Regions from separate parts of the Homo sapiens genome. Here regions 1, 2, 4, 5 and 6 are each reported to be linked to region 3. Evidence: microRNA targets listed by miRTarBase, many of them from high-throughput screens and not tested one by one. Region 3 holds a microRNA gene; each other region holds the end of a gene's coding sequence.

Region 1 (5,000 bases), not on the chromosome of region 3:
GATATGCATCCAATATTTTTAGCCCATGGTCCTGCCTTCAGAAAGAATTTCTCAAAAGAAGCCATGAACTCCACAGATTTGTACCCACTACTATGCCACCTCCTCAATATCACCGCCATGCCACACAATGGATCATTCTGGAATGTCCAGGATCTGCTCAATTCAGCAATGCCAAGGGTGGTCCCTTATACACAGAGTACTATACTCCTCCCTGGTAGTGTTAAACCAGCAGAATATGACCAAGAGGGGTCATACCCTTATTTCATAGGGGTCTCTCTTGGCAGCATTATAGTGATTGTATTTTTTGTAATTTTCATTAAGCATTTAATTCACAGTCAAATACCTGCCTTACAAGATATGCATGCTGAAATAGCTCAACCATTATTACAAGCCTAATGTTACTTTGAAGTGGATTTGCATATTGAAGTGGAGATTCCATAATTATGTCAGTGTTTAAAGGTTTCAAATTCTGGGAAACCAGTTCCAAACATTTGCAGAAACCATTAAGCAGTTACATATTTAGGTATACACACACACACACACACACATACACACACACGGACCAAAATACTTACACCTGCAAAGGAATAAAGATGTGAGAGTATGTCTCCATTGTTCACTGTAGCATAGGGATAGATAAGATCCTGCTTTATTTGGACTTGGCGCAGATAATGTATATATTTAGCAACTTTGCACTATGTAAAGTACCTTATGTATTGCACTTTAAATTTCTCTCCTGATGGGTACTTTAATTTGAAATGCACTTTATGCACAGTTATGTCTTATAACTTGATTGAAAATGACAACTTTTTGCACCCATGTCACAGAATACTTGTTACGCATTGTTCAAACTGAAGGAAATTTCTAATAATCCCGAATAATGAACGTAGAAATCTATCTCCATAAATTGAGAGAAGAAGAAGGTGATAAGTGTTGAAAATTAAATGTGATAACCTTTGAACCTTGAATTTTGGAGATGTATTCCCAACAGCAGAATGCAACTGTGGGCATTTCTTGTCTTATTTCTTTCCAGAGAACGTGGTTTTCATTTATTTTTCCCTCAAAAGAGAGTCAAATACTGACAGATTCGTTCTAAATATATTGTTTCTGTCATAAAATTATTGTGATTTCCTGATGAGTCATATTACTGTGATTTTCATAATAATGAAGACACCATGAATATACTTTTTTTCTATATAGTTCAGCAATGGCCTGAATAGAAGCAACCAGGCACCATCTCAGCAATGTTTTCTCTTGTTTGTAATTATTTGCTCCTTTGAAAATTAAATCACTATTAATTACATTAAAAATCAAATTGGATAAAACAATGTTTTCTTTCTGGTAGCGCATAATAACAGAGCACAAGCATCTTTTAGATTTGAGCATTTGAAGATTCAAAGTTGCGAAAGAGCACAAACCATATTAGGTAAAATATTGGCCACTCGATCCTTGAAAAGAACTGTGTGGAGCCTGGAAAAAAAAATTAGGACCACATGTGAGATGTTTACAAGACACCCAGAACAGTGGTAAAGTGTGCATACTAGAAAAAGCAGCAAAATAACTCTTTGTGGTAACAGGTATCAAAACACGGGAGCCGAGATGATATAGCTCTGTTTCAAGAAATATGTGAATACCCACCTACCAGGTGCTCAGTGGAATCAAAGATGAATCCAAGTTCACAAATAGACTTCTACTTCCAAGGTAGTACTTTTGACCTGCCTGGTCATCTCAGTCTTTTCCATTCCAACAACCTAAGGCTGTGCTTTAGATTTCTAAGTAATCAAGAAGTTTGGGAGAGGCATAGTATTACATGTGGCTTCTTAGAGGAAAGAGGAAGCCCTGAAAAGAAAGACTTTCCTTGAAGAAAATAGCATTTTACAGACACATGGATAGTACTGTGATTTCATGTATATATATGTACCAATTGGCTAATGAGTAGGTAAAATTGTATTACTATTCCAGAAAGAAAGGACAAATGGGATGTGAAGAACTAAAGTGACATAGTTAAAAATTTAACCAAATTTAAGTGCTTCCTAAAATTTGGTGAATGTCTTATTTTTTAAAATGATAATACCAATAAGGAATGTTGGCACATAATTCCCATTTCATTATAAAACCTCTTAATAGAATAGAATCAAATAATTGGAAATGGCCTATAGATTAAAAAGCTGAGAAAGTATATGGTAGGTAGCAAACTCCCCAGAAGTATGAACTCTGGATTAGACATCTCAGAATACATGAGCACTCATGTTGGCTTGCTTTGTAGCTATGAACTTACCCTGTATTATTGAAATGTCAGCATAATGACTGGAAGGTGAAATTGGTCCATTTTAGAGCATTACTATTATGCTATCTGTCCATTTAAATTAATAATTGCATTAAATTCATTTTAGAAGGTGCTATTACATTAGTAGTAAGAAAGTAAATTCATATATAAATATTTGATTATCAGATGGTTTACTTACAGATACTTATTTTCCTGTAAAATAGGAGAGTTTACCTGAAGAAAAATAAAACTTTTAACTTTTCTGGGAAAATCACATCACTTATCATCATTGACATCTTTTTGTTGTTGTTTTGTCTTACCTGCATGTCTTCATGGTCAAGCTTTGTATGCAGTGAACTCAAATTAGTACATGGAAATAAAAGACTAGCTAATCTTACTAATTGTAAGAATTTTAGAAAGGTCAGAGGAATGGAGCTTCTCTCTGTGCCCCCATCTTTTCTCAACATCCTCCTACATGAGCCATTTTGTAAAGTTTATTAATTGTTAGGATTTTTTAAAATTCAGTTTGTATTTTACAATTTCTTCTCCATCACCTGCAGTTTAAGTTTAAATTGCTTTTCAAAATGCCCTGTGATCTTGTAAGTATCCTATTATTAGTCTTAGTTTCTTACAAGAACCTCTTATTTCTAGAAAATCTAATGAAAGACCCCAGCTCTTCTAGTTCTCACATTTTTTTTTTCTGTTTTTCGTTAGCTGAAAAACATACTTGATAATCATAGAGTTGGGAAAGCTCTAAGGGATCATTCAACCCTTGATTTAACAAAAGCTCTTGCAAAGCTGTGAAATTTGCATGACATATTAGTGCCAGAGCTGGAGGCAGGACCCAGGTTCCATGACTGAGTTTATACTCAAAGTCAAGCTGCAGTCTAAGTTGGTTTACTTCCGGTTCTTCCTAAGGTAGCCCTTTGAGATCCTACCCCTAGCAGGAGGTGGTTAACCGATGTTCCCACCCTTGGCAGGCTCTCTGGTCCAACTTTTAACAGTCAGCTACACAAGGCTTATGGCTTTCTTTCAGACTGGCCAATGCCCAAGGGCAATGCCCCAGGACAAAATAGTCCTGAATGCTAGACTCTTTCAGGATTTCAGTCTTCTCTGAATGTCACCCTGGTAATTCCTCATAACCTTGTGGGCAATTTGATTCTTTTTAAAAAGACGTTTTAAAATGCATTTTGACTTCCAATCAGGACAGGATAGCATGGTCCTGCTTTTCCTTGTTCCTCCACACTAAGCATAATTATAGAGCCTGGAAATGGTGCAAGAGACTCTGAAGGGTGGTAATAAGGCTGAGAGCTGATTAGGGAACCTGGGCTGGAAAAACAGCACAGCGGCAGGGCTTCACGTGTTTCTCACCTAACAGAAGGAGGCCACACAGAGCCTGCATTTCTTAACCCCCACCTACCAAGACAGCAGCCCAGGGAGGTTTATTCCTCCCCTGGATCAAAGAAGAATCTCTGGTAACATCAGGGCAGCCCATGTCATCAGCAAGGGGAATTGCCATAACCCTCCAACTAGGAATATTGATTGGGAGTCCCATTAAAGAGCAGCCAAGAGGAGCATTCTCCTTCCCACCACTGAAACACTCTTCCACTGAGTCATAGAGGTGGACAAACAAAATCTGCAAAAGAGACCAAGCTACAGCAGACAGTCTGGGGAACCTCTTTGTTCCCATGCCCTGAGACTCTCCTCCTCTACCCAGAGACTTTGCAATGTGCAAGGCGCACCAATAAAGGAATCCCACTACACCATTTCCCTACCAAGAGATACCTGGCAGCTGGCCTGGGGAAAACCCTTCTGCTTTCCTCAGGCAGGACCAGCAGAGACAAGTGGGAATTCCAGCAGCACCACACAATCCAAGCAGACCATAATCCAATAGCACTCCAAAGGCTGTGAAAATTAAGCTGCCATTGGAATCACAGCCCACAAAAGTAGGACAAGATCTACATGCTAAACCTAAACTGTGTGACTTTCTGCTAAAATAAAAAATGTAAAGGGAACTCATCATCTTATTACATAATATATAAGATATCCAGGATACAACTGAAAATTACCTGTTATACCTAAAACCCAGAAAATCACAACTACAATGAGAAAAAAAAAATTGACACCAGCACCAAAGTGATTCATATGTTGGGATCATACAAGAAGAATTGTAAAACAGTTGTCATAAAAATACTTCAATGATCAACACAAATCCTCTTTAAAATGAAAGGTAAAAAATCTCAGCAAAGAAATAAAAGCTATTTTTTAAATGGAAATTATAAAACTGAAAATATAGTGGCATTTAAAAAAACTACATAGGCTCAATAGTACAATGGAATTGGTACAGGATAGAATCAGTGAACTTAAGTACAGAACACTAGAATTCACAAAACATTAACAAGTCTCAGTGATCTGTGGGACAATAAGAAAAAAATCCAACTTCCATATCACCAGGGTTGTAAAAGGGGAGGCTGAAAGACTACTTGACAAAATAATGACTAAAAACTTCTCCAACTTGACTAGACACAAATCTACAGATCCAAGAAGCTGAGTGAATGCCCAAACAGAATAAACCCAAATAAATCCACACCTAGGTACATTGTAGGTAAACTTGTTAAAAAGGGCCCCCCACTCAACAACTTAAAAGAAAAATCTTGAAAGTAGCCAAAGAGAAGCAATGCATTACTTATAGAACACCAAGTCTGATGACAGCAGATTCTTACCTGAAATCATG
Region 2 (5,089 bases), not on the chromosome of region 3:
TGTCAGATTAGACTGCACCCGCTGGGAGAAAGCAGTGGATGCAGCTCTGTCCATGCACACTCAGCTTTGCTTACTGAGGGTGTGAGAAATACAGATGGAAGTTTTGGAAGAGCAGTGCAAGACGGAAAGGGCATACTGCCTAATCTTGGTTGGTTTGCAGATGGTGGGGTTTGTGGTAGTGCCGGATCAACTCAACCCAAGGTGAGGAAAAGCCAGGGGGTTGGGAAAATCTCAGTGCTGAAGTCCTGGGAGAGGAGTACACACCAAAGCCATCAGGGCAAGGAATCTCTCCAGAGAGCCGCGAAAGCACCAGGCACTCAGAAGCCACTCAAGAAATATTAGTTTCCTCCCTATTTTACAAGGCTTGGTAGCACTGATAGTTTTGTGTCAGGTTCCAAGGAGACACCCACTATTTGTGTGCCTAAGAAGTAGCTCAGCCAGACCCAGCCTTGAGGCAGTGGGGCAACTAACAGCTTACCGAAGCCCTGGGGCAGCTTGATATGGGAATAATCAAGACCAAAATGTTGTTCTATAAAGCTGAGATTGGGGAGAGTGAGCCAGGGTACTTCTGAGAAAGAGGTCAGGGAACAGGATTATCATTAGCATTCTGCCCACAGAGTTGGCACTTACCCAGTAACATCGGGATTCCTAGAAAAGGCCCAAGCACAGACCCTCTAGCAGGTGTCCTAGTCACGGACCCAACCTAGTGGCGACATTAGGGGGTTTGCCTGTTCAAGGCCAGTGGGGGAAGAGGGAGGGAGGTGGCACACCAACAGGTGTGGAGCGCTGGCTAGGGCCAGGAGAGAATTCCAATGTATGGAAAGGCTAGAGTGTAAGTGGGAAGGTGAGGGGGGTCCTGTGCTGATCCTGCATAGATGGGACACTGACACAGGAGACAGCAGCAAACTCCTTCGAGTCACAGATGAAGCTCGGGGGCCCCCTGTCTTCTCCAAGCCAGTCCAGGAGATTGGCAGGATGGGAAGGCAGAGCACAGTCAGAAACTATGATCATTTCCTAATAAGAGATTATAGCAAGGTTTTAAATTTTGTTTTTAAAGAGGAAAAAAAATATAACATCATGGTTACACAGAGGCTCTGGAGATTCCCTGGGTTCACAATCCTACTTCTGCCATTTACTAGCTGTGCGATCTTGAACAAATTTCTGAGCTTCTCTGAGCCTGTTTCCTCATCTCTAAAACAGAGATAATGACAATGTTCTACTTACAGGGTTGTTTTGGGCATGCATGCAAACAAAACAGATTTTATGATCGAGTCATAGTTCTGGAAAGGAAGAAAAACCCAGATTTGCGCACACAAGTGTTAAGTAAATGTGAGCCCTCACTATTGTTCATACAACATGGCAGTGACACACATACATTAGACAAGAGATTATTACACACTGAGCCTCCACCCAGTCTCCCTATTATCCTCCCATGGGCTCCTAATTGATGACTAAACAGTGCATTGCTGGGTGGCTTCCAGTAGTTTCTTTCTTCACTTTGCTGCAACTTTGAACTGAAGGTGATCCACATGGTACATGACATTCTTCCTGTTTTCTTCACAAGACAAGGATGATGTTTAAATGGGCATTTGTTTGCGGAATGACTTGGAGAGTTCCTCTCTTTCAGCCATCTTTTCTCAAAGACTAAGGCTGTGGACAGGATGGGCATGGTAACAAGCCAACAAGCCTCATACTCTATTCTTTTTTTTTATTTTTTGAGACGGAGTCTCACTCTGTCACCCAGGCTGGAGTGCAGTGGTGCAATCTCAGCTCACTGCAACCTCTGTCTCCCCGTTAAAGTGATTCTCCTGCCTCAGCCTCATGAGTAGCTGGGACTACAGGCATGAATCACCATGCCCGGCTAATTTTTGTATTTTTAGTAGAGACAGGGTTTCAGTATGTTGGCCAGGCTAGTCTTGAACTCCTGACCTCAAATGATCCACCTAACTCAGCCTCCCAAAGTGCTGGGATTACAGGAATGAACTACCGCCCCTGCCCCCACACTCTATTCTGAATGCATGTATGGGCACATGTGCATGCCTGTCCCCTTTCACTCAGTGATAAGGAAGAAGGGGAACCAGAAATTTCTGTTTGAGAAATTAGTAACAGAAATGGGTGTGGGGAGCTGGTTACCTGGGAGATCCTTGTTCATTTGTAACATCAGGAACTGCTTCTTTTCCTCCTTCTCTCTTCTAGAAGACTGTCAAGGAGCCCGAGTGAGGGAAGCAGACCAACCATGGTCTTGGAGAAAAGAAAATAGGGTTTCCATCCCTTCTGGAGGGAGAAGGAATAGCAGAGATGAACATGAATGAAGAAGGAAACAAATGGAAATAAACAAAATGAAGGTAAATACCCTATATGTTAAAAGAAAAAAATACCCTATATGTTAAAAGAAAAAAGAAAAGAGAAGGAAGAGACACAAGGAAAGAAAGAGAGAAGCAAAGAGGTTAGGAATAGGGTAAGAGAAAAGGAAAAACAGCAACCAGCAGAGGAATCACTCCCCTGTTAAGGTTAACCAGGAGGAGAGGCTTATATAAGGCATGAATGTGAGTGGGTATGAGAGTCCAGCTTTCCCACTGCACTTGCTCTGGTTATGGAGCAGACTGCCATCTTCTGGTGCCATTTACTATTCAAGTTGCTTTGGTGTTTTTTTGTTTTTGTTTTTTTTTTTTTTTTTTTTTTACAACCAAGTGGATTGATTGAAATGCTTTGATTCTTCATTTGAAATGTTTCTATTCCATATACCCATTATCTTTTATCCTCACAAAAGCCCTTAACATTGTTTCCTTTAATCTTTGGGGTTCTTAAGCATCATTTCCACCAACAGAGATGTACCTACCCACAGTTGTCTCAGAGCATGGAGGCTGAAAGTCTGTGAGGACAAGAGTGAAATGGAGCAGAGGATAGGCTGTGGTTTGGAAGCGGCTCTGGAATACGCTGGGGGTGGCGGTGGGGCTGAAGGTTGGTTATGGGATGCTTCCTGGGCTCCGGAACATCTGTGCCAAAAACTGGAGGACCCATCCTCGGCTCCAGCCAGACGCTTGGGGTGCTATGTATTCTGAACCATAGCACTAGGTTGGAAAATTTGGCTCCTAATCTATACTCTGCCATGTACAGATCACAAAATATCATACAAGGAGCCTTAAAAGGTCATCTAACCTAAATCCAGTTTCCCAAGGAGAACACTGGGGCACAAAGAAGTGAGAGGTAACTCGCCCAAAGTTATATAGCTAGTCAGGGACTTCCTCTTCGGAGACAAAGGAAATCAGAATAGTGATTCTTCTGATTCACCGTCCCTCGACAAACAGTCCACAAAGTGCTTGGAGGTTATTAAAAGGCACCCCAGAAAAGTAAGGCTGGCATTTTCCTGGAAGCCCCTGAGTGTACAACCCCTGAGGCTCAGTATTTGGCTATAAAAACAGGTCTGGAGTTGCTTTGGCCTCCGTTTTAATCCCTAAAGCTGCCTGGAGGCTGGAGCTCTGATAGCTACCTGTCATCACTCCCCAGCCAGTCCGCGGACACCGCAGCCAGGAACTGTCAGAGGTGACAAGGGAATCCCGTCATAATGCCAAGGACCAAGGAGCAGTGGCCAGGTTCCTGGGATTAAGCAAGGCAATTATGGCTGAGTTAAAGCTAGGATGGGTAGGACAGGGGGATCTGAGGTGGAAAAGGCCGGTAAGAAGAGGGAATGCGCCAGCAATGTAAATGCCTTCGACTGGGTGGGCTACTTCACATCATACCTCCTCCATCTCCAAAAGGTTCTTAACCTTCTTCAACCGCCTAGGCCTGATGGACCTCCTCCCTTTCTCCCAGAGCCCACTCACTGAAGGGAAGGCCACCATCATCCCCATTCTTTTCCTTTTTTTATAATCCCTCCGGTGCCGTTTCGGGTCTCCTTCCTCCTATATTCTGAGTTCCTTCCACTCACATCCAACCAGCTTTTAACACCCGGATCTCCCGGAGCTTCTTTGGTTCCGCTCACTCCCCCCGCCCCCACGCCCCCACGCCCCCACGCCCCTGATTTCCCCACCCTTTTCGCCCTCCCCGGCTTGACTCCCTTGGACCGCTCCCGCCAATCCTGGTCTCTCCTACTCCTCCCCGCCACATCGGGTCGCCCCGCCCCCGGGTGCCTTTGGTGTTTTCCGCCGTCGGCCGCAGGCGCCTCGTCTCAGATAAAGTGGATCCAGCCCTGCGGCTCCGGAGCTCCGCCACTGCCCGGGTGCTCGGGCCCACGTAGAGCATAGTCACGGCCGCCGTTGTTGTCCCAGAACTCGTGACCTGTCACACGGTAGCGCAAGGCGAAGAGCAGGGCGCCCCCAATCGGCGGCGCGGGCAGGCGGAAGGCGAAGCGGTCGGCGCGCGGCGGGGGCGGGGCCGGACCGGCGTAGGCGGCTGGCGCCTCGCGTTGGCTCCGCCAGCCGTCGGCGCTCCAGCGCACGCTCACGCGCTTCTCGTAGGCCAGGTCCACCACGCGCGCGCTCCCGGCCACGCCCAGCGGGCCCGCCTCGGCGCGTTCCAGGCAGATGCGCTGCGTCAGCAAGCGGGCGGCGAAGCCGGGCTCGCTGGCCGGCTCCAGGGCGGCGCGCGCCTCCTGGGGGAAAGAAGAAGCGGGAGGAGGGAGCCCAGGGCGGAGAGAGGGGAGAGACAGGGGGCGGTGTCAGAGCAAGGCACTGGACCAATCAGAGGCCGACCCCGGCGTCCAGGCCGGCAGAGTGCGGCCCAGCTGCCAGGGTGGCCTAGAGCCACTCGCAGATGGGGTCCCCAAAAGGGATGGGCAGGCGCAAGCCCAGGGATGGGATGGAGATGGGTGCTCTTTGGCAAATCCACTCCCACAAGCCCGCTGCGGCCGACTGGAGGAGGTCCCCAGGAGGGGAGGTGCCCCCGCCGCCTACCTGGAGGCCGCGGGCGCGGGGCTGGCAGGGCGCGAAGTGGCGGAGGGCGTCCCTCTGCAATTGGATCTGCACGTGGCGGGGCACCCGGGGCAGCTCACCGGGACGGAAGCGGCGCACGACAGCCAGCTCCAACCCCAGTGCGTCGGCGAAACGCACTCTCTTGCGGGTGTCTGGGCTACGGCTGCGGGGCGCCCGGG
Region 3 (5,089 bases):
ATAATCCCAGCACTTTGGGAGACTCAAGCGAGAAGATCGCTTGAGCCCAGGAGTTGGAGGCTGCAGTGACCTATGGTAACGCGACTGCACTCCAGCCTGGGCGACACAGCAAGACCTTGTCTCTAAGGAAGAAAAAGGCTAAAATGAGTTAATTGATGTGACTAGCTTAGGGCAGGCCCAGGCACAAATACCAGAATCCTCAGCCTCACAATCTAGTCTTTGGGTTCCGTAGAAAAGCGCTGGCTTTGGCCTGAAACCCAGGTCTGAATCCCAGGCAGGCCCTCGGTCGCTGTGCGGCTGCTTCACTATGCCCCTCCTTTCCCTGTCTGTAAAATGGGGCATGCGTGCTCAAGAATGGGCCTGATCTTGACAGGCCTGGGCTGAGCCCTGACTTTTCTCCCTCAGGGCAGAGACACCTGCGGAAGCCACAGGGAAGCCACAGAGAGATGAAGCCGGCCCACAGAGGCAGCTGCCAGCCCTTGATGGCAGCTTGATGGGGCCGGAGAGTCCCCCAGCACAGGAAGAGGAAGCCCCTGTATCACCCCACAAGAAGCCAGCCCCCCAGAAGCGGAGGAGGGCCAAGAAGGCACGGCTGCTGGGCCCCACTGTGATGCTTGGTGGATGCGAGTTCAGCCGCCAGAGACTGCAGGCCTTTGGCCTCAACCCCAAACGGCTGCACTTCCGCCAGCTGGGCCGGCAGCGGAGGAAACAACAGGGGCCCAAGAACAGCTCCTGAGCACCAGGGAGCAGGCAGGGGCCTCAGGCTCCTCTCCTCAAATCAAGCCCTGGACAGGTCTCGCACCCACAAGTACTATCTGCTGCAGAGATCCTCTCATCTGTGGCCAGGCACGCCTGTAATCCCAGCACTTTGGGAGGCCGAGGTGAAAGGATCACTTGAGCCCAGGAATTGGAGACCAGCGTGGGCAACTTAGCGAGACTCCATCTCTACAAAATGTGGTGACACATGCCTGTAGTCCCAGCTACTCAGGAGGCTGGGGAAGGAAGATCACTTAAGGCCATGAGTTTGAGGCTACAGAGAGCTATGATTGCACCACTGCACTCCAGCCTGGGCAACAAAGCAAGACCCTGTCTCTTGAAAAAAAAAAAAAAATTAAAAAACACGTGTAGCTGTGGGTAAGGAAGTCGTCCCATTTTATGGATGTGGAAACTGAGGCTGACTTAAACTTCCCGTGACTTGGAGCTCTCACCTCGAGACACCTCCCAGACCCCACATCCCCTCAGAACGCTGCGCCCAGCCACACCCACGATCAAGTTACACAGCTTTATTGGCCCCCAGCAGCCACAGTTCCCCCAAGGGGGCTTTGGGACAGGGAGGGCCCGGGCGTCCAGTGCAAACTACAGTACGTGAGTCAGGCCCTGAGGGGGGTGCCCGGGGTCCTCCTTCCCTACCCTGCCAGGAGGGCCCCGCTGGTGGGAGACAGGTGTATGGGCTCTGTGGGCTCTGTCCCTGGCTGAATGGCCCCAGACTGGTTGCAGCTGGGCTTGAGGGGCTGACAACAGGAAGTACCATCATCACTGCCAGAGCTCAAGATCCCACACCCGACATGACATAAATAAAAAAATAAATAGTGTTGTATCTTTCCCCTCATCCCCTCCCTTTATAAAAACACAAAGTCCTCAGAGCTGGGGCGTTTGGCCCTGAGGAGCCGCCCTGTGCGAGGGAGCCGGAGTGTGGGCTGGGCGAGCTGGGAGCAGAGGTCGTCCAGGCTGTGGTCCTGAGCATGGCCCTCGGCCAGGGTGAACATGGGGTACCGCTCTGTGGCTGAGGAGGAGCTGAGGACCTGGCGGGAAGAGGGAGACAGGGTCAGCCACAAACAGTGCCAAGCCATATTCCTTAGCCCAGGTTTATTTAGTAGGTGCTTCTCAGGACCACCTCTCCAGGAGAGAGCAGCCAATCAGCACCTTCCATCCCCTGGCCACAGTGATTGGCTCAGCCATGAGCATGTGACCCAGCTCAGCCAAAGACTGACAGTCCTGGGATTTTTGCTGCAAAACCTGCGTTTCCCTTCCAGTGACCACAGGGTGGGTGCCCAGAATGGCTGGTGGCCATCTCTCGCCCCCATAAGGGTAGAGTCCTGGTCGGACAGCAGGGCCAAGAGACAGGGAGGGTTCCCACCACTTGAGCCCCTGGATACAGCTGCCTCCAAGGGATGATGCCTTAACAGTGGGCTTTGGCGTTCCCACCTTTTCAGGGGTGGACATTCTTCACATTTCCCAGGTTAGGACCCCTAGCCTGGAAGCAGCACCCCAGCTCTGCTGGACTCGAGGCCTCTGTTCCTCTTTCACCCCCAGCCCTGCCCAACCGCCCCCCTCACCCCACTCCAGCTTTCCTCTTGCTCACCCTGGTCAGCTCTGAGCAGAGTGTCTCAAACTCCTTCCTGTCTCCAGCATAGAAGCCCACGGTACAGCTTGGGTCCATCTTGGCAAAGGCCATCTTGCGGGGCGAGGTGCAGTGGAAGGACTGGGGCAGACAGACGAGGAAGGCTCAGAGGCTGGGCTGCCCACCCGCCATGGCCCCAACCACACACTGGGGCTCCCACTCACCTCCAGGGGGAAGTCGGCCTGGCTGACATCCACAGTGGGCTGGCAGTAGTGAGGGTCCAGGTACAGCAGGAAGTCATCTGCAGGGGGTGCAGGTGTGAGTGGGGGTGCGGTGGGGGGTGGGAGGAGTGAGGAGGGGGTGGGCCTACCTTGGTAGCCAATGAAGTACAGTGAGTGTCGCGGTTTCCCACCCATGATGCCCAGGCACAGCTCGCAACGCAGGAGTTCCTGCAGGGAGGAGGGTAGGCAGGTGCTGTCAGGCAGCCACTCAACAAACGCTTGGCAAACACCTCCTCTGTGAGAACCCAGCCTCTGGAGGGCAGCAGTGATCAAGACCACAAAACCCTTGCCCTCAGGAGCTGACATCCTAGTGTGAGAGACTAACAAGGAAGATGATTACATGAATTTTTTTTTTTTTTTTTTTTTTGAGACGGAGTCTCACTCTGTCACCCAGCCTGGAGTGCAGTGGCCCAATTGGCTCACCGCAACCTCCGCCTCCTAAGTTCAAGCGATTCTCCTGCCTCAGCTTCTCAAGTAGCTGGGATTACAGGCACCCGCCACCACACCCGGGTTAATTTTTTGTATTTTTAGTAAAAATGGGGTTTCACCATGTTAGCCAGGCTGGTCTGGAACTCCTCCTAACCTCAGGTGATCTGCCCGTCTCGGCCTCCTAAAGTGCTGGGATTACAGGCTGGAGTGCAGTAGCACGATCTTGGCTCACCGAAACCTCCATCTCCTGGGTTCAAGCAGTTCTCCTGCCTCAGCCTCCCGAGCAGCTGGGATTACAGGCGCCCGCCACCACGCCCAGCTAATTTTTGTATTTTTAGTAGAGACGAGGTTTCACCATGTTGGCCAGACTGGTCTTGGACTCCTGACCTCAGGTGATCCACCTGCCTCCCAAAGTGCTGGGATTACAGGCGTGGGCCACCACGCCCAGCCAATTACATGATTTATCTCATGTGTTAGAGGTGATAACTATATGGAAAAGAATAAAAGAGGGAAGGGAGCCTTGTGATTTTAAGTAAAGAGGTCAAACATTACAGCTCTTTTAGAATTTGTCTCAGGTTTTCTGGTTCTCACTGGAAAACCCCCCACGCAAAAAATATTTTAAAACAGGAGCCAAGCAGTGGCTCATGTCCATAATCTCAGTACTTTGGGAGGCCGAAGCGGGAGGATCACGAGGTCAGGAGATCGAGACCATCCTGATTAACACAATGAAACCCCATCTCCATTAAAAATACAAAAATTAGCCAGGAGTGGTGGCGGACGCCTGTAGTCCCAGCTACTCGGGAGGCTGAGGCAGGAGAATGGCATGAACCCAGGAGGTGGAGCTTGCAGTGAGCTGAGATCATGCCACTGCACTCCAGCCTGAGTGACAGAGCAAGACTCCGTCTCAAAAAAAAAAAAAAAAAAAAAGCCACATGCATCACTGCTGAAAGAGTGCTCCAAGCAGCAGGGGCAGCAAGCGCAAAGGCCCTGAGGTGGGAGTGTCTGAAATAGGTGAGGAGGCCCCTGTGGCTGCAGCAGAGTGTGGGAGGAGGATATGAGGTCAAGGTGGGGGATATCCCGACATCAAGAAGGTGGTGTGGACAAATAGTGCCGGGCTCTGTGGGTCACTGGGAAAACTGGCTTTTATTCGGATGCAAATACATAGGGGACTTTCCAGCCTCAGGGTCTCTGTCTTGCTGTTCCTTTTGCCTGGAGCACTTCTCCTCTGGCTCCTCATTTGCCTGGTGGCTGCAGAGGCGCTTTTCTAGGCTCTGCTGCTACCCTCATCTGCCCTTCATTGGGTTACTGTTTTTTTAAAGTTGTGTAGAGGCTGGGTGCAGTGGCTCATGCCTGTAATCCCAACGCTTTGGGAGACCGAGGTGGGTGGATCACCTGAGGTCGGGAGTTCAAGACCAGCCTGGCCAACATGGGAAAACCCCATCTCTGCTAAAAATACAAAAATTAGCCGGGCGTGGTGGCATACACCTGTAATCCCAGCTACTTGGGTGGCTGAGGCAGGAAATTTGCTTGAACCTGGGAAGCGGAGGTTGCAGTGAGCCAAGACGGTGTCACTGCACTCCAGCGTGGGCAAGAGAGTGAGACTCGAATATTTTCAAAAAAAATTGTGTAGAGATGGGGGTCTCACTATGTTGCCCAGACTGGTCTCAAATGATCCTCCTGCCTCGGCCTCCCAAAGTGCTGGGATTATAGGCCTGAGCCACTGTGCCTGGCTTCATTCCAAACAGTGATGCTACTTTGGTTACATAGCCACTGCTGAGCATCCTCCCATCAGAACGTCTGCTCCCAGCAGGCACACTCAGAACTCCTGCCTATTCTGTTCCCCTCTGAATCCCCAGCAGTCGGGACAGTGGGGAGCACACATAGCAGGTGCTGCATAGTATAAAAAAAGAAGGGATGGGCCGGGCGTGGTGGCTCACACCTGTAATCCCAGCACTTTGGGAGGCTGAGGTGGGTGGATCACCTGAGGTCAGGAGTTTGAGAACCAGCCTGGCCAACATGGCGAAACCCCGTCTCTACT
Region 4 (5,089 bases), not on the chromosome of region 3:
AAACACAGAAACAAGGTAACTTATCCCAGCTCACACAGCAATAAGCAGCTGAGCTATGATTTGAAGAAAGGCACCCAGGTCTAAAGTCTATATTCTTAAACAGTATGCCACAGTGCCTTTCATAATGAAATGAAGCTAAGATACTAGAAGATCAGCCAGGCGCGGTGGCTCACACCTGTAATCCCAGCACTTTGGGAGGCCAAGATGGGCAGATCACTTGAGGTCAGAAGTTCGAGACCACCCTGGCCAACATGGTGAAATCCCATCTCTACTAAAAAATACAAAAATTAGCTAGGTGTGGTGGTGCATGCCTGTAGTCCCAGCCACTCGTGTTACTGAAGCATGAGAATTGCTTGAACCCAGGAGGCAGAGGTTACAGTGAAACTTCCACTCCAGCCTGGGTGGGAAAAAAAAAATACCAGAAGATCCTAAAATGCCTACTGAATCATCTAAAAAATACTAAACTGTGCTCAAATGTAACATTAATATCCAAGTGTGCTTTATTGGATTCAAATGCTAGAAAAATTATTCATCCAAATCCAATACTTTCCAGTTGATCAATTCCCCATCCCCCATCCACTCTGTGTTTTCCTCATAAGACCTTCTGTGTATTTTCATGTCACTTTCACACAAGTATGTGTGTTCCATATGCTTCAGGGTCATTCCAGATAGAAAATAAGAAATTAGGCAGAAGGAAAAAGACTGAATTTTTTTTTTTTTTTTTTTTTTTGAGACACGTTCTCACTCTGCTGCCTTGGCTGGAGTGCAGTGGCATGATCACAGCTCAATGCAGCGTCAAACTACTAGGCTCAAGGGATCCTCCCATCTCAGCCTCCTGAGTAGCTGGGACTACAGGCACACAGCACCATGTTCAGCTAATTTTTTAATTTTTTGTGGAGACCGGGTCTCCCTATATTGCCCAGGCTGGTCCCAAACTCCTGGGCCCAAGCGAGTCTCCCACCTCAGCCTCCGAAAGCACTGAGATTTATAGGCATAAGCCATCACCCCCAGCCTGACAATTTTTTTTAGGAGAACAAAAACAAAGTGAGTTCTACTTGCTACTTTAAAGCACCACATGTGAATATTCAATGATGTTTCATTGCAAATTGGAAACTAGATCCCATTTGTCAATTTTGGCTTTTGTTGCCATCGCTTTTGGTGTTTTAGACATGAAGTCCTTGCCCATGCCTATGTCCTGAATGGTGTTGCCTAGGTTTTCTTCTAGGGTTTTTATGGTTTTTAGGTCTAACATTTAAGTCTGTAATCCATCTTGAATTAATTTTTGTGTAAGGTGTAAGGAAGGGATCCAGTTTCAGCTTTCTACATATGGCTAGCCAGTTTTCCCAGCACCATTTGTTAAATAGGGAATCCTTTCCCCATTGTTCGTTTTTGTCAGGTTTGTCAAAGATCAGATAGTTGCAGATGTGTGGTATTATTTCTGAGGGCTCTGTTCCATTGGTCTATATCTCTGTTTTGGTACCAGTACCATGCTGTTTTGGTTACTGTAGCCTTGTAGTATAGTTTGAAGTCAGGTAGCGTGATGCCTCCAGCTTTGTTCTTTTGGCTTAGGATTGACTTGGCAATGCGGGCTCTTTTTTGGTTCCATATGAACTTTGAAGTAGTTTTTTCCAATTCTGTGAAGAAAGTCATTGGTAGCTTGATGGGGATGGCATTGAATCTATAAATTACCTTGGGCAGTATGGCCATTTTCACGATATTGATTCTTCCTATCCATGAGCATGGAATGTTCTTCCATTTGTTTGTGTCCTCTTTTATTTCGTTGAGCAGTGGTTTGTAGTTCTCCTTGAAGAGGTCCTTCACATCCCTTGTAAGGTGGATTCCTATGTATTTTATTCTCTTTGAAGCAATTGCGAATGGGAGTTCATTCACGATTTGGCTCTCTGTTTGTCTGTTATTGGTGTATAAGAATGCTTGTGATTTTTGCACATTGATTTTGTATCCTGAGACTTTGCTGAAGTTGCTTATCAGCTTAAGGAGATTTTGGGCTGAGACGGTGGGGTTTTCTAGATATACAATCATGTCATCTGCAAACAGGGACAATTTGACTTCCTCTTTTCCTAACTGAATATGCTTTATTTCTTTCTCCTGCCTGATTGCCCTGGCCAGAACTTCCAACACTATGTTGAATAGGAGTGGGGAGAGAGGGCATCCCTGTCTTGTGCCAGTTTTCAAAGGGAATGCTTCCAGTTTTTGCCCATTCAGTATGATATTGGCTGTGGGTTTGTCATAAATAGCTCTTATTATTTTGAGATACGTCCCATCAATACCTAATTTATTGACAGTTTTTAGCGTGAAGGGCTGTTGAATTTTGTCGAAGGCCTTTTCTGCATCTATGGAGATAATCATGTGGTTTTTGTCTCTGGTTCTGTTTATATGCTGGATTACGTTTATTGATTTGCGTATGTTGAACCAGCCTTGCATCCCAGGGATGAAGCCCACTTGATCATGGTGGATAAGCTTTTTGATGTGCTGCTGGATTCAGTTTGCCAGTATTTTATTGAGGATTTTTGCATCGATGTTCATCAGGGATATTGGTCTAAAATTCTCTTTTTTGGTTGTGTCTCTACCAGGCTTTGGTATCAGGATGATGCTGGCCTCATAAAATGAGTTAGGGAGGATACCCTCTTTTTCTATTGATTGGAATAGTTTCAGAAGGAATGGTTAAACTAAAGAGCTTCTGCACAGCAAAAGAAACTACCATCAGAGTGAACAGGCAACCTACAGAATGGGAGAAAATTTTTGCAACCTACTTATCTGACAAAGGGCTAATATCCAGAATCTACAAGGAACTCAAACAAATTTACAAGAAAAAAACAACCCCATCAAAAAGTGGGCAAAGGATATGAACAGACACTTCTCAAAAGAAGACATTTATGCAGCCAACAGGCACATGAAAAAATGTGCATCATCACTGGCCATCAGAGAAATGCAAATCAAAACCACAATGAGATATCATCTCACACCAGTTAGAATGAGGATCATTAAAAAGTCAGGAAACAACAGGTGCTGGGGAGGATGTGGAGAAATAGGAACACTTTTACACTGTTGGTGGGACTGTAAACTAGTTCAACCATTGTGGAAGACAGTGTGGCAATTCCTCAGGGATCTAGAACTAGAAATACCATTTGACCCAGCCATCCCATTACTAGGTATATACCCAAAGGAATATAAATCATGCTGCTATAAAGACACATGCACACGTATGTTTATTGTGGCACTACTCACAATAGCAAAGACTTGGAACCAACCCAAATGTCCAACAATGATAGACTGGATTAAGAAAATGTGGCACAAATGCACCATGGAATACTATGCAGCCATAAAAAATAATGAGTTCATGTCCTTTGTAGGGACATGGGTGAAGCTGGAAACCATCATTCTCAGCAAACTATCACAAGGACAAAAAACCAAACACCGCATGTTCTCACTCATAGGTGAGAATTGAAAAATGAGAACACTTGGACACAGGAAGGGGAACATCACACACGGGGGCCTGTTGTGGGGTGGGGGTATGGGGGAGGGATAGCATTAGGAGATATACCTAATGTAAATGATGAGTTACTGGATGCAGCACACCAACATGGCCCATGTATACATATGTAACAAACCTGCACGTTGTGCACATGTACCCTAGAACTTAAAGTACAATAAAAAATATATATATTTAAAAAAAAGAAAATTGGAAACTAGGGAGGTACTAAAAATGAAGTCTATTATTTTTCTTAACCAAATGAAATGTTTCAGTTTATCATTTTTAAGAGAATTTCTCTCTTGCCTTCTTTTGGTCCCTCCTTGGGATCTCAAAGATGCATATTTAAGATGTCTTTTGAAAACAATGCAGCTGAAGAAATTTCCTCTTCTTTTAGTGCAATTTTACAAAAATTAAAATGAATAGCACAAACGACTCAACTCCAAATGCATTTTCATCTACTTACAGTGCTGTCGTTTGTGACACAAGGAACAAGAGTATGTCAGGGACTCAGAAGATCTGTCAGAACTGGGTACTAACCCACAGCTGTGGGCAGTGGCCCATCCACCAGTGGGCATTCAAATATCTGCCCTGAACTATACATAGTGAAAGGTCCAGAGACCTTCATGCCCTTTGGATGCAAGACACAGAGTACAGATTCAATCATGAACTGACTGTCATTTAGATGGAAGAGGTCTTCTCAAACCGGCTGGCCTTTCCCTCAGGAGAAGCTGAATTTCCTTAGATGTATTTTCTTGACACTTCAGTTTACAAAGACGCTTCACTTCATACTCCCTTTCGAGTTTGATAGCTGAAAAAGAAAATACACAAAACAATCTGACATACATTTTTCATCAGGCATAACTAAGTCAAAACTGAATATCATACAGCAAAATCCATATGCCTGAATAATAAACAAGATGACAGAGCTACAAAGATAGGAGGTATGGGTGTAAATACACAGATTTAAACATTTCTCTGATAAGCAAATGGCACACTGAATTTATAACTTATTAAAGCAGAACTTAAGGAACTTACATTCTGCAGAAGGGAGCAGTCCATCTTTAATGGTGGTACATTTTGTGAGCTGCACAGAACCACCAAATGAAATTTCTTCCAAGAAAGGCAACTTGATATTGGCTAGGTTTGTGGACCAGGTCTTTGCAAGCAATGCAATATCCCAAGGTTCCTGTCTGGGGCAAAAATTCATTAATCCATTCAATAAATATTGATTAAGCACCTACTATGTGAGATGTAGAAGACATTAATTCTCAGTTCCATTTGCCACTAGACATTTTGGTTTATGGGTGGAGGGGGAGATGTTCAGAATTTTCCAGAGTTGTAGTTCCAGACAGGAGAGGGAGATTTATATTAACTAATATAGAGATAATACTGAACAATGACCAGAAATTACACCAGGAACTTTGATTCAGCCTCCATGAAGTCAATCCATTCTTTCCATGTAAGAGGATGTAGATAAGAACTGTAAGCTCCAGAGTCTTTTATAGCTCATAAAAATGTGGTCATATTGAAGAAGGAAAGAAGGGCATAATCATACATTGAGCAGGGTGCTTGGCACAGACTAAGGTTTTGAGTGTG
Region 5 (5,076 bases), not on the chromosome of region 3:
TATAACCCCTGAGGACCACAGAACGGATTTAACGTGCATGTGCAACATGGCTCATTGTTTTTGTTGTTGCTGTTTTGTTTCCGCAGGTATGCCATTGGTCTTGCTTACAAATCAGCCCCGAAGCATGAATGGATTGGGAAGAACTCTGCTTCCTGGGCGCTCTGCCGCTGCAACAATAACTGGGTGGTGAGACACAATAGCAAGGAAATCCCCATTGAGCCTGCCCCCCACCTCCGGCGCGTGGGCATCCTGCTGGACTATGATAACGGCTCTATCGCCTTTTATGATGCTTTGAACTCCATCCACCTCTACACCTTCGACGTCGCATTTGCGCAGCCTGTTTGCCCCACCTTCACCGTGTGGAACAAGTGTCTGACGATTATCACTGGGCTCCCTATCCCAGACCATTTGGACTGCACAGAGCAGCTGCCGTGAGCGTCTGGCCACATGGAGCTGCTTTCTGGGGAACAGTAAGGTTCAGGCCACTATTTAGGGGACTGAGAAAGCACAGGCTTCATGAGTGTAATGAAATCTCACCAGAAGTGTCCCGAAATCGGCTCAGATAGGGCTCAAAACAAGAGATTCCTCTCCTTTTACTGTGTCTTGTATTAAGTACGGGCTTTAATAATTTCTTTAATTTTTTTGTATTTAGAGGAAAATCTATAGATTATTTATAAGAGAAACATAATCAGGATTACAACTTTTAGGAATTACTTGGTTTTGCACATTAAGAGGCCCATAAGTTTATCAGCTATTTACAACCTTCATTTCATCACAATCTGTGGGCTTACAAAAAAACAAAAACTTTTGTAGTTTTGTATGTTACTCATCTTCTTACCTGATATCCCATGATGATCCCATGGTAGGTCTTCTCACCTCGATGGTGCATAACAGGATGTGTTTGAACCTAGTAGGGGAGGAAACAGGCTTTCTTACTCTGGTTTAATTTGAAGTGTTTTAATTGTGATGTCAAAAAGTTGTATCAGATCAACTAAAATGGAGAGCAAGACAGAGAATGAAAAGAGTTGATTTTGGACCTCGGACCTTGCCGTGGCTAAATCTTTACCTTCTCATAGCTGATGGGATAATGTTGGAAAGAAAGGTTCTGAATCCTTTGGCCACATTTTGCCCTGCTTCTCTCAGGGTTAAGGGTTCTGGAAGAACATTAAGAATGAGATTGCAATTGAAAATAGTCATTTTGAATCCTATTGATTATTCAAAAATTCAGGCTGATTTGTCTTTTATCAGAGGTAGGATTCTGTTTTATAGTATAGAATCTACTTTATCCTTCCTTTTAATAGTTCCTTTAGACCTGTGAAATTTCTTCACTACATTTAATAGTTCTCCTATTTCCCGCTCCCCCATATCAATTTTCCTTTTGTCTCCGGGGCTGAGTAAATAAACATGTTCTGTCACAAATAGCAGCACCACTTTGGATTGATTTTGCTCTCCAGGACATCAGCACATGGCCCTGATCAGCACTACCACATCCAAACATAAGTCACTGAAAAACACTTAATATTTATGAGTTGGTAATGACAAGGGACATTGTATAAAGTACTATTTGCTAGATTCATGCCTCAAAAGTTATTATAAACAGACCTTTATTAAACACATCTTGAAAGATGTAGAAGTCCCTCTATAGTCTAGTATAGTTTACAATAGAGTTGTAAGACCAAAAAAAAAAAAAAAAAATTCAAACTCGTTATTCAGGAACCTGCTTATAAAATGTCAGCTGGGATTCTTTGCATGCCAATCTGATGCGTTGGAATGGTCCATGAATTAAGGCTTTCTTGAGCAGTTCTTGGCCCAGAACTCTGGCATTGGTTCTAGTTTGATGAAGGGCATGACCTCTATAAATGGTTTCAATTGCTAAAATATTTACCTGGGATACTGGGTCAGCCATTTTGACTGAGCAGACTAGTGGATTTAGACATTGTTTTTAGTTATTTTGTTTTTAACCAAATCAACCAACTGCCTCCCTGAAATAAGTCAATGAACTCATTGTTTCAGCATCACGTGGCCAAAGGTCATGTGATTGCAAATCTGGATTTCAAGGGAGGCCAAGCCAGCTTCCTGGGTCCTTCCATCCTCTTCCCTAGCAGACACTCTCCTTTTTCTTAACAGATAGATTCTATATATTTACTATATTATTTATACCCAGATGAATATTTTGATAGATACCTAAGACAATTTCACATCTAAAAGATGGACGCCTCAATGGAAAAAAAACAATCTTTCTCTGGAAACCTTATAGGTTTTTCTTTTTATTACAATATAAAAGCAATGTGTGTTTGCCTTCTCTGAGTAAACTGAAAGGGTTGTCTCAGTAATTTTTACATACATTTTGGGTAACTGGATAATGGATATTTTAATGCACTTTGTACACTAACAGGTTCTAAATAAAAGGGTCTAAAACTCAGCTTCTGAGTTTTTAAAATCACGGTCTCCAGGTACCAATAAATGCTACAGTTTGCCTTATGATGTTAACATAAAACACTTAGTAGAAGGACAATATTTCCATGAAAATAATGTTTTTCAATATTAAGAAGTTACTACTCAAATTTTCACAGTAAGCCATTTAGGGTATGTTTGGCTATTTTTATAAGGACATGAGAGATTATGTCATAATTTTGTTGTGGAAGTCTCACTCTTGGCTAACTTAAAAGCATTGTGGATAGTAGCAGTTACTAGTTCCAGGTTGTCATATTTACAGGAAAATATGTATATGGTGAAAGGCCACCGTGTTTAATTACTATAATGATGTAGAAAAGATTCCCGTGTGAATTTTTTTTTTGAAAGTCTAAAAAATGTATGCTGTAAAAATTTGCTGCAGTGTAATTTTGCATTCTCTTTAAACTGATTGAGGTCACAGTATTTTATTATTTGGGGTCCTCACCACAGGAAACACTGCGATACAGGGGCAAAAGAGATGGCAGTGCCAATTAAATTAATACAACAAAATCAATGCAGCACCAACCAAGACTGCCAGGTCTGGTGTCATGGGTATGCCCAGAGCCCAGGAGTTCAGAAGGGCCCTAAGCCTGATTTAATGCTCTGCTGTTGATGTCTTGAAATTCTTAACAATTTTTGAACAAGGGGCCTGCGTTTTCACTTCGCACTGGGCCTTGCAAATTACATAGCGAGTGCTCATAAAAGAACTCAGAAACGTGGTACCTCTCTTCCTGGTGGATACAAATAAAGAAATCTGGATCCAAAGTTGAAAGTTGCTGGCGATATCATTCAAGTAGGACTCTAAATAGTGGATTAAGATGAGGGTGGGCCTGGGTGAAGATTCTTTCCAGCTTTAAAAGAAAGTGACTTCAAAAACTGACTGCAAATATTGACGATGGTTTCTGCTGGAGGAAAAGAAACAGCTTGAATACAGACAGGCTTTTTTATTACGGTACTGATATATTGACCTTAAACTTGCTGAGGAACTGAACTAACGTCCTCCAGTGACCGTGGAATTCCATCTCAGCTCCAGGAACATGCAGATACCTGCAAAGAGACACGCATATATGCTGGCATACATGTGCATTTGGTGTTGGGAAGTTGACCATCTGGTCTATCTTAATAAAATGGTAAAAAGCACACCAAGACAATGATGGGGGCAGGAGGATGTTTTTGAAAACAGCGCTTCTCAACCAGTGCTCGATTTTGCCCCCCAGGAGACATTTGGCAATGCAATGGCAACTTTTGGTTGTCGCAGCCGGGGAAGGGAAGCTACCAGCATCTAGTGCGTAGAGGTCATGGACGCCGTTAAACATCCTACAGTGCAAGCGCAGCCCCCGACCACGAAGAGTTGTCTTGCTCAAATATCAACAGTGCTGCAGTGTAGAAACTTGATCGTTGGTTTTCTTTTAATGCAAAACTCTCATAAAAACCTTTCACTTTTCCTGTCATTGATTATATGCTTGATACACCCAAAAAGAAAAGGGGAGGGGCACCAATTCACCTACACTCCAGTGGCTCCATCACCTTTAAAAATATTTATAAAATAGTTCCAAAAATCTGATATCTGAAAAGCAATCCAAGCCTGTGTAAATGGGAATCACTGATAAGTATCATCATCTGTATCAGCTTGGCTTGGACATGAAAAATTGATTCTCTTTATGTCACTCCTTGCACCTGGACAAATTCAATCCCCGGTACTTAAGTCACACTGCCAAGCCCTCGGCCCTGACTATTGTCTTGATTGCTGTTCCTTTCTGGTTCAAAATAAAATCATTTTTGTGGCACCAAGACCCTCTGTCTCTGCCTGTCTCTGTTGCCTTTTCATCATTTTGTGTTTTTGCAGTTATGATGTTGACAAATATTTATTCAACATCTACCATTTATTCATACTACTTTATGACATATAATTCATTTTCTTTTACTGTCTCTCATCCACTATTTGCCTTTCCCTATTCAAAATACAATTCTTTTGCAACACTCAAAATATTCTCCAGGGAATTTTTAAAACACAATAAAAGAAAGCCTATATAGAAGTGGAAACCCAGAACAAGGTTTGCTTGATTTCAAGTCTTATAGATGGGGTGAGGAAGAGAAGAGCAATGATTATTTGAACAGAGCACTGGGAGTCTTTACAGTGTGATCTAGGAGAATCCTAGCAGTTGGTCCATACATATATCCTCAACCCCATCCCATGGACCTGACTTTCTCTCACTAGAGATGCAAGCCTTTGGTCTTGGTCAGTGCTATGCAAAGTGTGGTCCAGGAATCTGCAGCATCTGCATCACCTGCGAGCTTGTTAGAACTGTCAGTTCTCCTGCCTCCCCCGAGACCTGCTGATCAGAATCTTTGGGGTGGGACTAGCAGTCACCCCAGGGGATTTTGATACTAGTGGAAGTGTGTGAAGCACTGCCCTGGGGAGCTGCTTCCAGTCTCATAGCCCATATAGAAAGGCACTTACCACCTGAGATGTGTTTTCAAGGCAATGTGCTTTTAGAGAGAGCAGGATGTAATGCAGTGATTCTTAACATGACTGAGCATTTAAACCATCTTTTCTGCAAATGAGGATTCCTGGATCCCATCCTGAAAGATGAGGGATGAGAAAATCAAGAGCACAAGAGC
Region 6 (5,089 bases), not on the chromosome of region 3:
GAACTTCCTAGTGTTTTATAATTTATTATTATTATTTCCTTATTCAGGGCTATCAGGAAGGATAACGTATACTCCAGAAAACCTTTGCAGAAAACTGTTCTTACAACATGAAGGACTTAAGCAATTAATATGTGAAGAAATGGACTCTGTCAGAAAGGGCTCACTGATCTTCTCTAGGAGCTGGTCTGTGGATCTGGGCTTGCAAGAGAACCACAAAGTCCTCTGTGATGCTCTTCTGATTTCCCAGGACAGTCCTCCAGTCCTATACACCTTCCACATGGTACAGGATGAGGAGTTTAAAGGCTATTCTACACAAACTGCCCTAACCTTAAAGCAGAAGCTGGCAAAAATTGGTGGTTACACTAAAAAAGTGTGTGTCATGACAAAGATCTTCTACTTGAGCCCTGAAGGCATGACAAGCTGCCAGTATGATTTAAGGTCGCAAGTAATTTACCCTGAATCCTACTATTTTACAAGAAGGAAATACTTGCTGAAAGCCCTTTTTAAAGCCTTAAAGAGACTCAAGTCTCTGAGAGACCAGTTTTCCTTTGCAGAAAATCTATACCAGATAATCGGTATAGATTGCTTTCAGAAGAATGATAAAAAGATGTTTAAATCTTGTCGAAGGCTCACCTGATGGAAAATGGACTGGGCTACTGAGATATTTTTCATTATATATTTGATAACATTCTCTAATTCTGTGAAAATATTTCTTTGAAAACTTTGCAAGTTAAGCAACTTAATGTGATGTTGGATAATTGGGTTTTGTCTATTTTCACTTCTCCCTAAATAATCTTCACAGATATTGTTTGAGGGATATTAGGAAAATTAATTTGTTAACTCGTCTGTGCACAGTATTATTTACTCTGTCTGTAGTTCCTGAATAAATTTTCTTCCATGCTTGAACTGGGAAAATTGCAACACTTTTATTCTTAATGACAACAGTGAAAATCTCCCAGCATATACCTAGAAAACAATTATAACTTACAAAAGATTATCCTTGATGAAACTCAGAATTTCCACAGTGGGAATGAATAAGAAGGCAAAACTCATTTTCTCAAAACAAAACTCCAGGAATTCTCTGGATCTTCTTGAGCTACTTTCACACTATTTACTTGGAAGGGTTGTGGATTTCCTAACTGGTCAGCTAGCACCTTTAAAGAACTCACAAGAATGGTTACTTTATTTTTCTACAAGCAGTTCTGAATAAAGAAGCGTGAGATGACAAAATATGGAAAATCCTCTCTAACTAAGATTTGAAGGAAAGCAGCCAAGGTATAAGTAGAAACTCTTTTAGACAACGAGAGTTTTCATCAACAAGAGGAAGGAGCACCAGGGTCTGGCATTTCCCACTCATCTAAGATGAGCTAAGGGACCAAGATGAAGCTCAGCAGAGTGGGATACACCCTTGGCTGGGTGTTCTGAATTCATGCCTAAGACCTTCAGTGGGATCTTGGAACAGAGAATAGAGCCTAAATTACCCATCAGGGCCTCAGCCTTCTCCACCACTGTGTCCAATGCCAGAGGAAGTCGATCAATGCATTCAGTATTCTGAGAAAAGTTTTACTAACACATATTTTGCCAAACGAGATGATGTTTGACTATAAAGGAAATAGGCAGACATTCTTATCAAAGGATATAGGGAACGGAACGTAGTTCTCTTCTACCTTCTTGAAAACTATGTTACAATGAAATCCAGCCAATGAAGAGATGAATCAAAATGAAGAACCTAAAACGAGAGCATACTTGCACTCCTGGAGTCTCTCTCCAGCCCTGAACTGTGGCCAGCACAGTGTGTCAGCCTGTACCAGCTGCCGGTATGGGTGACCTGGGCACAGGCAAGGCCATCATCATCACACACTGTGTGCACCAGAACTCCTCTTGGCATCTCCAAGCCAGTTCACCATTGTGTGAACTGTGCACTGAAGGAGCTCCACTGGGACTCAGAGGCCTTGGCACAACTGCAGCTGTGGAACATTGCGATGAGGAAAGATTGGGAAAATGACAAGAGCCCATTGTCTGGAATTCATAGGTGCATTGATTGTCTTCAGTATCACCAGCCCAGCCCCATTTGAAGCAGAGCCAAAGTGGAAAAATGATTTGGACTAAACGTTAACTCATGGCAGACCAGTTTCTGTGGTTCTGTTGGCCAAGAAATGTGACCATGGGAGGATGAATGCAGAAACAGCAGCCTCAAGATGGGCCAGATCTACATGGAACATAGTTTTGTAGGATAAATTGAAACATCAGCAAAAGAAAATGTGAACTTTGATGAAGCCTCCAGGTGCCTGGATGCCAAATAGACAAATACAGAATATAAGAAAACACAATAAGAGTCATTGGCCCCGTGCCTATTTGGCATCATTGCAAGAAACCTGGGGTAGTAATAGTGGACGTATTTAGAGAGTGAGGCATAAGCTCACCTAAACAGCCTAGAAAATGTTTACTATGAGAGTAAGAAGGAAGAACACAAGTGGATATACGAGGAGTCCTTGCAATCTGGCCCATCAGTAAGTTTTTCATGTGTGCATCATTAGTCAAGAAAGTAGATCTGAAATTTTGGGGGGTCTTTAGTATAATCTTGGTGGAGTTGTAAAGTGGATTAAAAGTCTGAATTATATATATATCAAAGTGGCAGGTCTGGCAGTCATATTGTTGAACAGTGTGGCTGATACATTAATAATGTATGTGTACATTCGTGTATGTGTGTATAACCAAGGGGAAGGGGTGGTCATGGTCAGAGATGTAAGACAAGAGGTCGGCGGGGGGAAGCTTCAGGGAGTGGTAGGGGAGGGCACTGGGGAGCGAGTGGGTCAAGGAGTTGACTAATAGGAAACAACTACCTCCAGGAGAAGGCAATAATCTCCATTACTTTTTATTATTTTATTTTTTTTTTTAGGGACAAGGTCTTGCTCTGTTGGCTGGGCTGGATTGCAGTGGTGTGATCATAGCTTACTGCATCACTGAACACATGGGCTCAAAAGATTCTCTCACCTAAGCCTCCTGAGTAGCTAGGACTACAGACACCACCAACTCACCTGGCTAATTTTTAAAATTTTTGTAGAGATAGGGTATCACTACGTTGCTCAGGCCGGTCTCAACTCCTGGGGTTAAGCAGTCCTCCCATCTTGGCCTCCCAAAGGGCTCGAATAGGCAAAATTGAGCTGTTTAATGAGAAGCAGTGGGGATAATTATCCCCTTTCATAATGAGGTTCTATATAACAAGTCTTAATCCTTGAAGGGCCTATTCTAACTTAAATTGTGCCATATTAACTATTTTAAAGAGGGATTTATAGGGTCCCATTTTATCAAGCCATTTTTTAAGTGCCAAAATTTTAACTTTAGTTTATTATTTGTTGTGTCAGAGAGTCTGTGTCCAATAAGAGATACTTTAAAGCAATGGGTACAAAACTATGGGAAATTCAACCAAAGCAGTAAAGTGAGGGATAGTTATCCAAAATATTTTTTAACTTTAGTTACCTTTTTAAGATTAGAGGGCATACAATATTTAAATTTAATGAGAACCCCAAGTATAATATGTATTTTTTTGAGAAGGAGTTTCGCTCTTGTTGCCCGGGCTGGAGTGCAATGATGCTATCTTGGCTCACGGCAACCTCCGCTTCCCGGGTTCAAGTGATTCTCCTGACTCAGCCTCCCGAGTAGCTGGGATTACAGGCACCTGCCACCATGCCTGGCTAATTTTTGTATTTTTAGTAGAGACAGGGTTTCACCATGTTGGCCAGGCTGGTTTTGAACTCCTGACCTCAGGTGATCCACTCGCCTCGGCTTCCCAAAGTGCTTGGATTACAGGTGTAAGCCACCACGGCCCACTCCAAGTATAATTGGAGCCCCAGTATTGATTGAGTCCATGAAGTATGTCAGCTGGTATATTTTAGCAAATGCTAAAGTTAATTTAGACCTTATGTTGTAGAGACAAAAAATCTAATCAATGTCCTTTTATCTTTTTGTAATATAAATTCTTTGGTATATACATTCTGGATTTCTAATTGGGCCAAATTATGGACATTTGTTTTAATTTAGTTACTTATGTTATATCCATATCTATATGTACACATACAATCTATTCCTTAAGTCTATATTGAAATATTATATCGAAGGCCTGACCAGAGTGTCCGCCATGGAGTCGCAGAAAGAGGCGCGACCCCGTCGCGCGACCGCCTGGGGCCTCAAGGTCTCAGACGCCAAACTACAAGGAGCAGCGGGAGGGCGGCGCAGTGCTGGCGACGGCTGCCCTGGGAACAGAGGCGGACGACGCTAGTGCGGGCGGGCTGTGGGAGCTGCAGGTGGAGCCGAGGAGCTGAGGCCTGCGTGCAGCCGCTGCAAGCCGGCCTCAGAAAGTGTGTTTTTGTCCATTTCTCCCAGCGCACCCTTTGCATATCTCTACCTACTTGTGCATAATTCAGCATCCAGCAGAGGAAGACAAAATGTTGCGGACAGTTCCTCTACCAGCAGCATGCCTCCCCCAGGACAAGCGCAAAGTGAAGACTGGTCGTCGCTTCAGTGAAGAAAGAGATCCTGAACTTTCAACTGTTTGCCGGAAGTTTGGTACATTAATGTTATATCCAGGGGCTAATATAAGAAGCTGCTAATCTGGAAGAATTTATATTAGATTCTCCTGTTTATCCTTCTACAATCATCGTCATTGATGGTACACGGAGCCAGGCTAAGGACATTTTCTGTAAGAATTCCTTGTTCTGACACCCCCAAACAGGTGCAGTTAAAAACGAGCATTTCTAGTCAGTATGTAATTCGGATACAGCCAATTAATAGATGTCTTTCTACACTGGAGTGTGCACCTGTTGCTCTTTCCATCTTGGAGAAAAATAATTACATACAAGAGACTTTGCTTCGCCCTCTTGAAGCTTTATGCTCTTTCCAGATTTAGCATGGTGCCCAAATTGGCCCCAGCAAGCAACGCCTTCTGAAAAAATGGATTATATCCTAAACCAATGCCAAAGAACAAACACAAACTCAGGAAAATGGAACTATTAAAGAATAGTGTTAAAATTTAGTACAGTTGTTCTTTTGGTGTTAGCTTACCTGTCTTCATCTAACAATACCAACTTAA

What was found. The annotated mature microRNA hsa-miR-1238-3p reads CUUCCUCGUCUGUCUGCCCC and lies in region 3 at 2,485-2,504, opposite strand. An mRNA with a match to its seed (bases 2 to 7 or 8) in the 3' UTR can be bound and repressed. Matches are read on the target gene's strand: a 7mer-m8 pairs with bases 2 to 8, a 7mer-A1 pairs with bases 2 to 7 and ends in A, and an 8mer does both.
Region 1: the mRNA of ENPP5 is a reported target of hsa-miR-1238-3p. Seed matches in the 3' UTR shown: 7mer-A1 at 1,824-1,830.
Region 2: miRTarBase lists PPP1R3E as a target of hsa-miR-1238-3p. Seed matches in the 3' UTR shown: 7mer-A1 at 2,176-2,182, 7mer-A1 at 1,181-1,187 and 7mer-A1 at 343-349.
Region 4: the mRNA of C4orf36 is a reported target of hsa-miR-1238-3p. The part of its 3' UTR that is shown has no 7-base or 8-base seed match.
Region 5: the mRNA of MID1 is a reported target of hsa-miR-1238-3p. Seed matches in the 3' UTR shown: 7mer-A1 at 652-658, 7mer-A1 at 917-923 and 7mer-A1 at 3,363-3,369.
Region 6: the mRNA of SLFN12 is a reported target of hsa-miR-1238-3p. The part of its 3' UTR that is shown has no 7-base or 8-base seed match.

The regions. Positions count from the first base shown.
Region 1 is chr6:46,156,722-46,161,721 of GRCh38, reverse strand. ENPP5 (ectonucleotide pyrophosphatase/phosphodiesterase family member 5) reads left to right here. Exons shown (of 5, transcript NM_001290072.2): 5 at 1-2,537. The coding sequence ends at 396. Among named protein-coding and RNA genes, the nearest start is that of ENPP5, 12 kb to the left of the region's middle.
Region 2 is chr14:23,297,268-23,302,356 of GRCh38, forward strand. It overlaps PPP1R3E (protein phosphatase 1 regulatory subunit 3E), which reads right to left. Exons shown (of 5, transcript NM_001276318.2): 1 at 4,893-5,089; 2 at 4,031-4,591; 3 at 3,491-3,597; 4 at 2,134-2,274; 5 at 1-1,650. The coding sequence ends at 4,169. Among named protein-coding and RNA genes, the nearest start is that of PPP1R3E, 3.0 kb to the right of the region's middle. RefSeq lists an enhancer at 4,039-4,228 and silencers at 4,289-4,718, 4,729-4,788, 4,869-5,089.
Region 3 is chr19:10,549,598-10,554,686 of GRCh38, reverse strand. MIR1238 (microRNA 1238) reads right to left here and starts at 2,565; the gene lies at 2,483-2,565. It overlaps ATG4D (autophagy related 4D cysteine peptidase), which reads right to left. Exons shown (of 10, transcript NM_032885.6): 7 at 2,712-2,790; 8 at 2,566-2,642; 9 at 2,363-2,482; 10 at 1,269-1,802. The coding sequence ends at 1,620. It overlaps KRI1 (KRI1 homolog), which reads left to right. Exons shown (of 19, transcript NM_023008.5): 19 at 406-1,602. The coding sequence ends at 736. It also overlaps the pseudogene RNU7-140P. RefSeq lists enhancers at 258-337, 368-417, 438-607.
Region 4 is chr4:86,883,593-86,888,681 of GRCh38, forward strand. It overlaps C4orf36 (chromosome 4 open reading frame 36), which reads right to left. Exons shown (of 5, transcript NM_144645.4): 3 at 4,529-4,683; 4 at 4,166-4,301. The coding sequence ends at 4,168. Among named protein-coding and RNA genes, the nearest start is that of C4orf36, 6.3 kb to the right of the region's middle.
Region 5 is chrX:10,444,727-10,449,802 of GRCh38, reverse strand. It overlaps MID1 (midline 1), which reads left to right. Exons shown (of 10, transcript NM_000381.4): 10 at 87-4,247. The coding sequence ends at 435. Among named protein-coding and RNA genes, the nearest start is that of MID1, 170 kb to the left of the region's middle. RefSeq lists an enhancer at 1-864.
Region 6 is chr17:35,406,886-35,411,974 of GRCh38, reverse strand. It overlaps SLFN12 (schlafen family member 12), which reads left to right. Exons shown (of 4, transcript NM_018042.5): 4 at 48-1,053. The coding sequence ends at 637. It also overlaps the pseudogene LOC729839. Among named protein-coding and RNA genes, the nearest start is that of SLFN12, 23 kb to the left of the region's middle. RefSeq lists a silencer at 3,711-3,924.